Regions from separate parts of the Homo sapiens genome. Here region 1 is linked to region 2. The links come from fine-mapping of genetic effects on gene expression. Tissue or cell type: whole blood. Region 2 holds a variant in brackets; the other region holds the start of a gene. All regions are shown on one strand. Distances are from middle to middle.

Evidence for each region. PIP is the estimated chance that this variant, and not a neighbour inherited with it, causes the effect. A credible set is the group of variants that fine-mapping cannot tell apart.
Region 1: it holds the start of APBA3, and the variant in region 2 is the best candidate, but not a certain one, in a credible set for the expression of APBA3 in whole blood (INTERVAL, PIP 0.63).

What each region holds. Positions count from the first base shown.
Region 1 is chr19:3,760,210-3,763,017 of GRCh38, forward strand. It overlaps APBA3 (amyloid beta precursor protein binding family A member 3), which reads right to left and starts at 1,483. Exons shown (of 11, transcript NM_004886.4): 1 at 1,327-1,483; 2 at 1-92. The coding sequence starts at 55. It overlaps MRPL54 (mitochondrial ribosomal protein L54), which reads left to right and starts at 2,473. Exons shown (of 3, transcript NM_172251.3): 1 at 2,473-2,609. The coding sequence starts at 2,492. It overlaps LOC105372248 (a long non-coding RNA gene), which reads right to left and starts at 2,431. Exons shown (of 3, transcript XR_936268.1): 1 at 2,349-2,431; 2 at 1,940-1,997; 3 at 1,545-1,645. RefSeq lists a silencer at 1,368-1,685 and an enhancer at 2,347-2,808.
Region 2 is chr19:3,891,660-3,894,467 of GRCh38, forward strand. All of the region lies in intron 2 of ATCAY (ATCAY kinesin light chain interacting caytaxin), which reads left to right. Among named protein-coding and RNA genes, the nearest start is that of ATCAY, 12 kb to the left of the region's middle. The variant CA/C (reference allele first, on the strand shown) is at 1,249.

The DNA.
Region 1 (2,808 bases), 130 kb before region 2:
CCAAGTCCATGGCTGGAGGCCCCGAAGGGGATCGGGAAATTGTGGGGAAGTCCATGCCTGGACTCCAGGCTTAGGCCGGCATCTTCAGGCAGCTGAAAGAGAGAGAGTCAGCACTGAGGTTTCGCCCGGGTGCAGTGGCTCATGCCTGTAATCCCAGAATTTTGGGAGGCCCAGAAGGGCTGACTGAACCCAGGAGTTCAAGATCAGCCTGGGCAACAGAGCAAGACCCTCTCTCTACAAAAAATACAAAAAATTAAGGCCGGGCACAGTGGCTCACGCCTGTAATTCCCAGCACTTTGTGAGGCCGAGGCGGGCAGATCATGGGGTCAGGAGTTTGAGACCAGCCTGACTAACATGGTGAAATTCCGTCTCTACTAAAAATACAAAAAATTAGCCAGGTGTGGTGGCAGGCACCTGTAATCCCAGCTACGCAAGAGGCTGAGGCAGGAGAATCGCCTGAACCCGGGAGGCGGAGGTTGCAGTGAGCTGAGATCGCGCCATTGCACTCCAAGGTGGGCGACAGACGAGACTATCTCCAAAAAAAAAAAAAAAAACTAGCTAGGGGTGGTGGTGTAGGCTGTAGTCCCAGCTACTTGGGAGGCTGAGGTGGGAGGATCACCTGAACCAGGGGAGGCAGAGGCTGCAGTGAGCCTTGATTGTGCCACTGCACTCCAGCCTGGGTGACAGAGTGAGGCCCTGTCTTAAAAAAAACAAACAAACCCGAAAAACAAAAAACTTGAGGTTTCCCGGCTGCCTATCCGGTGCTAGGCTCTAGCTGGGTACTGTTCATACAGGGCACATAATTTAATACCCACTAACCCTTGCAAGGAAGTTAGGATTCCCATTTTACAGATGAAGAAACTGAGCCACAGAATGGGGAGGTGTGAGGCAGTGGCTTCCCGAGCCCCTGTGTCATCCCAGACCTCTCTCAACTAATGGAGTCTGTTCACTCCAGCCCTGGTTCTTCCAGGTCCTCCTCCCTCAAGACGCGGAACCCAGGCTGGAGACCCAGACCTCACACCCTGACTCTACCGACTGGTCAGAGGCAGTTCCCCAAGACCCCAGACCCAAGACCCCAGTCCCATGACCTCAACCCCCAATACCTCCATCCAGAACTTTAGACCCAGGACCCTGGACTTAATACCAGAGACCCAAGACGCCATAAGGCGGACCCCAGTCTCCAAACCTCCAATGCTACCCCAAGATCGACTCCAGACTCAGACCCCGACTTCAGGACCCAGCCCCAAGCCCAGACCCTAGTCCCCCCTCAGACCGAAGACCTCAAGCGCCGACTCAGACTGCGCTCTGCACCTCGAGGACACTCACTTCCCAAATCGAGGCCGCCTCAGCCCCGCGCAGCCTCCAGGACCCCGCTCCCCACGGACGGCCCCGACGTAGCCCGGGCCGCGTCCCCAGAAGGCGCAGCTCGGGGATTCCCGGTCCCGGCGCCCGCTCCTCTATCCGCGCAGAGCCCTGGCCCATTGAGCATGCGCGGCCTCGCGAGGCCTGCTGGGAAATGTAGTTCTCCCACCCAGCCTCGCCACGCGGGGGCGCTGGGACAACTGCAGATGTTGGAGGGGAGTTCGAATCCCAGGCTTCCCGGCCCGCAGACTGCCCCGGCTGGCCCCAGGACCTGTTTGTTCTCCTGCAAAATAGGGTTAATAATCACTGCCTGGCTCTGGGGGCTGTGTTCATTATTCCAAAGGATGGCAGATGGGGAGAAGTGGGGTTGGGAAATATTAAAGAAGTGTGAGAGGTGGTTTCCTTGGGACCTTGAGGCACCGGAAGCGTCGTGGAGACCCTGTTAAAGACGGACTTTCGGTTTGGCTCACAGTAGGGAGACACATAGGTGCACCATGGATTTGGGGTCGGCCTGGGAACTTTACCTCCCTGAGAACTCAGTTTCCTCATTATAAGCTGGGGAAAAAATAGTACCTACCTCTCAATTGTGAGGATTAAATTAGATCAAGCGGGTTAAGGATTTAGCAGTAGTAGAGCTGGAAAAGAATATATAAAATATATATTATTAATTTATATATTATATATAAAACATACTATATATTATATGTATTATATATGTTATATATAATTTTAAAAATATAATGTTATAAAAATTAACAGTGATTAGACTCCAGCCCTACTGGAGTATATTAGACTCATTGTTAATCTTCTTTTTTTAACTTTAAAGCTTTGAATAATTACTCATTGGATGGAATCAGGAACATATAAAGTGTGATATTTTTAGTAAATGTTATGTAATTGAAGAAGGGCAAGAAGTCAATGAAATATCCCTTGAACGCCTCCTCCTATAGTAACTGTGTATGTCTACAAAAGTCTGAAGAAATCACCATAGATTATGAAAGCTTGGGAGACCGCATTTCCCAGACACCTCCACGGGGCCTACACTTCCACGGGGCCTACAACTCCCAAACACCCTTGGGCCACTGACGTCTTCCGGAAACGTGCACTTGCAAGCTGCCCGCAATACGTCATGGCGACCAAACGCCTTTTCGGGGCTACCCGGACGTGGGCCGGCTGGGGGGCCTGGGAGCTCCTAAACCCCGCCACTTCCGGAAGACTCCTGGCCCGGGATTATGCCAAGAAACCAGGTGAGCTGGGTTAAGAGGAACCAAATGGGGACGGTGGGTGCACTGAGGAATTGACAGTGCGCAGGCGGTGGTTGGGGAGGTGGTGCTAGAACTGATGCGCAAGCGCAGAGAGGCGGATGCCAGGCTGTATGCGCAGGCGCAGTTTGAGGGACCCAGCGCCGCTTGGAGCTCGGGCGTCTGGCTCGGAGATACTGTAGCG
Region 2 (2,808 bases):
AAGGCTCTGGGCTCAGTGGAAGCAGGTTGAGGGACTGGGGAAGGCTGCGTGGGGAAACTGAGGACTTGGGGGAGGAGCTTACCCAGGGCATCCTAGCCAAGGAGGGTCAGATGCAGGGTGAGCTGCCCCATAGCTCCCTCTACTCTCTTCCCCTCACAGCTGAGTGGCTGCCAGTTTTGTTTGCTTGCTTGTAACTTTTTCTTTGTTTGTTTTGGGTTTTCTGGGGGGTTTTATTTATTTATTTATTTGAAACAGAGTCTCGCTGCAACGCCCAGGCTGGAATGCAATGACGTGACCTCGGCTCGCTGCAACCTCCACTTCCCAGGTTCCAGCAATTCTCCTGCCTCAGCCTCCCAAATAGCTGAGTTTACAGGCGCCCACCACCACGCCCAGCTAATTTTTGTATTTTTAGCAGAGATGGGGTTTCACCATATTGGTCAGGCTGGTCTCGAACTACTGACCTCAAGTGATCCACCCGCCTCAGCTTCCCAAAGTGCTGGGATTACAGGCGTGAGCCACCATGCCCAGCTGCTTGTAACTTTTTAATTTTTTTTTTTTTTCCAGACGGGGTCTTGCTCTGTCACCCAGGCTGGAGTGCAGTGGTGCGATCATAGCTCACTACAGCCTCCACATCCCAGGCTGAGGCGATCCTCCCACTGCAGCCCCCTGAATACCTGGGACCACAGGCATATGCCACCACACCCAGCTATGTTTTATTTTCTGTAGAGACAGGGTCTCACTGTGTTGCCCAGGTTGGTCTCAAACTCCTGGGTTCAAATGATCCTCCCACCTCAGCCTCCCAAAATGCTGGGATTACAGGCATGAGCCACTGCGCCTGGCCTATTTGATATACTTCCAAACTTGGAAAAAAATTACAAGAATGATATAAAGAATATCTGCATACCTTTAGTAGGATTATACAATTGTTAACATTTTGCTCCTTTTATATCAAAGTCAGCCCTCAGGGCTGGGTGCGGTGACTCACATCTGTAATCCCAGCACTTTGGGAGGCCAAGGCAGGTGGATCACCTGAGGTCGGGAGTTCAAGACCAGCCTAGGCCAACATGGTGAAACCCCGTCTCTACTAAAAATACAAAAATCAACTGGGTGTGGTGGCGGGCACCTGTAATCCCAGCTACTGGGGAGGCTGAAGCAGGAGAATTGCTTAAACCCAGGAGGCAGAAGTTGCAATGAGCCCAGATTGTGCCGCCACACTCTAGCCTGAGCAACACAGCAAGACTCTGTCTC[CA/C]AAAAAAAAAATTTACCCTCAATTGTACCGATAATGTCCCATGTCCCTATTTAGCTAATGCCCCTGCCCCAAACCCTGGGTCCAAGACCCAATCTGGGACCACTCATTGCATCAGGTTGAGTATACTGGGTTGTGTGTTTACTGGGGTATGTGTCTCACCAGGCACTGGGACTTAAACTTATCTCTTTTAGGGGAACACGATCCAACCCACCTCAGCAGGACGAAGCCACGCTGTGCATCTTGCATGTGGGGGGGACCCCCACTTTTTTTTTTTTTTTTTTTTGAGACGGAGACTTGCTCTGTCGCCCAGGCTGGAGTGCAGTAGCATGATCTCAGCTCACTGCAACCTCCGCCTCCTGGGTTCAAGCGACTCTCCTGCCTCAGCCTCCCAAGTAGCTGTAGCTGGGACCACAGGCATGTGCCACCATGCCAGGCTAATTTTAGTATTTTTAGTAGAGACGGGGTTTCACCATGTTGGCCAGGCTGGTCTTGATCGCTTGACCTTATGATCCACCTGCCTCGGCCTCGCAAAGTGCTGGGATTACAGGTGTGAGCCACCATGCCCGGCTAGGATTTCCACTTTTTACCTGGATTGCCCATCATGGACTTTGAGAGCCGGCTCTGCAGAGGGCTAAGTGGATATATTATACCCCAGGGCCACGGAGGGGATCTCCAAGTCTGGAGAGTCTGCGGTTCTCCTGGAGCTTGCGGAAGTAACAGGATCTCACCTGACCTTGGAAACTGCAGCTCCATGAACAGGCGGGGAGAGCTTGCTCCACCCATGTTCCAGAGCAGTGGGTCTTCCTTCAGGGAGCCTGGAGCCCTGCCAGGTCGGCTTCTCCAGTTCTGCATGATCTTAAACCTTTCCTGAACATCCACTGCAACTGGCAGCTCAGCCTCAGGACCTCATCCCATCCCCGAGGCACTGCCTCTCCCTGGCCCTCCCTCCCTACCCTCCATCCTCCAACCACTCCCTCCTCCCCCACTGCTCTCTCTGCGCCAGGCACCCTGAGTCTGCTTTCTGATCTGCCCTTGAACTTGGCAAGCTTATTCCAGTCCCGGAGCCTGGGCCTCTGCAGTGCCTTCCATCTGGAGTGCTCTTGCCTGGTCTCTGCAGGACGCCAACATCATGCTTAAAAGTCTACACTTAAAAGTCGCTTCCAGCCAGGCACAGTGGCTCACTCCTGTAATCCCAGCACTCTGGGAGGCCAAGGCGGGAGGATCACTTGAGCCCAGGAGTTCAAGACCAGCCTGCAAGACCCCATCTGCAGAAAAATATAAAAATTAGCTGGGTGGCCGGGCGCGGTGGCTCACGTCTGTAATCCCAGCACTTTGGGAGGCCGAGGCGGGCAGGTCACGAGGTCAGGAGATCGAGACCATCCTGGCTAACACGGTGAAACCCCGTCTCTACTAAAAATACAAAAAATTAGCTGGGCGTGGTGGCAGGCGCCTGTAGTCCCAGCTACTCGGGAGGCTGAGGCAGGAGAATGGCGTGAACCCGGGAGGCGGAGCTTGCAGTGACCTGAGATCGCGCCACTGCACTCCAGCCTGGGTGACAG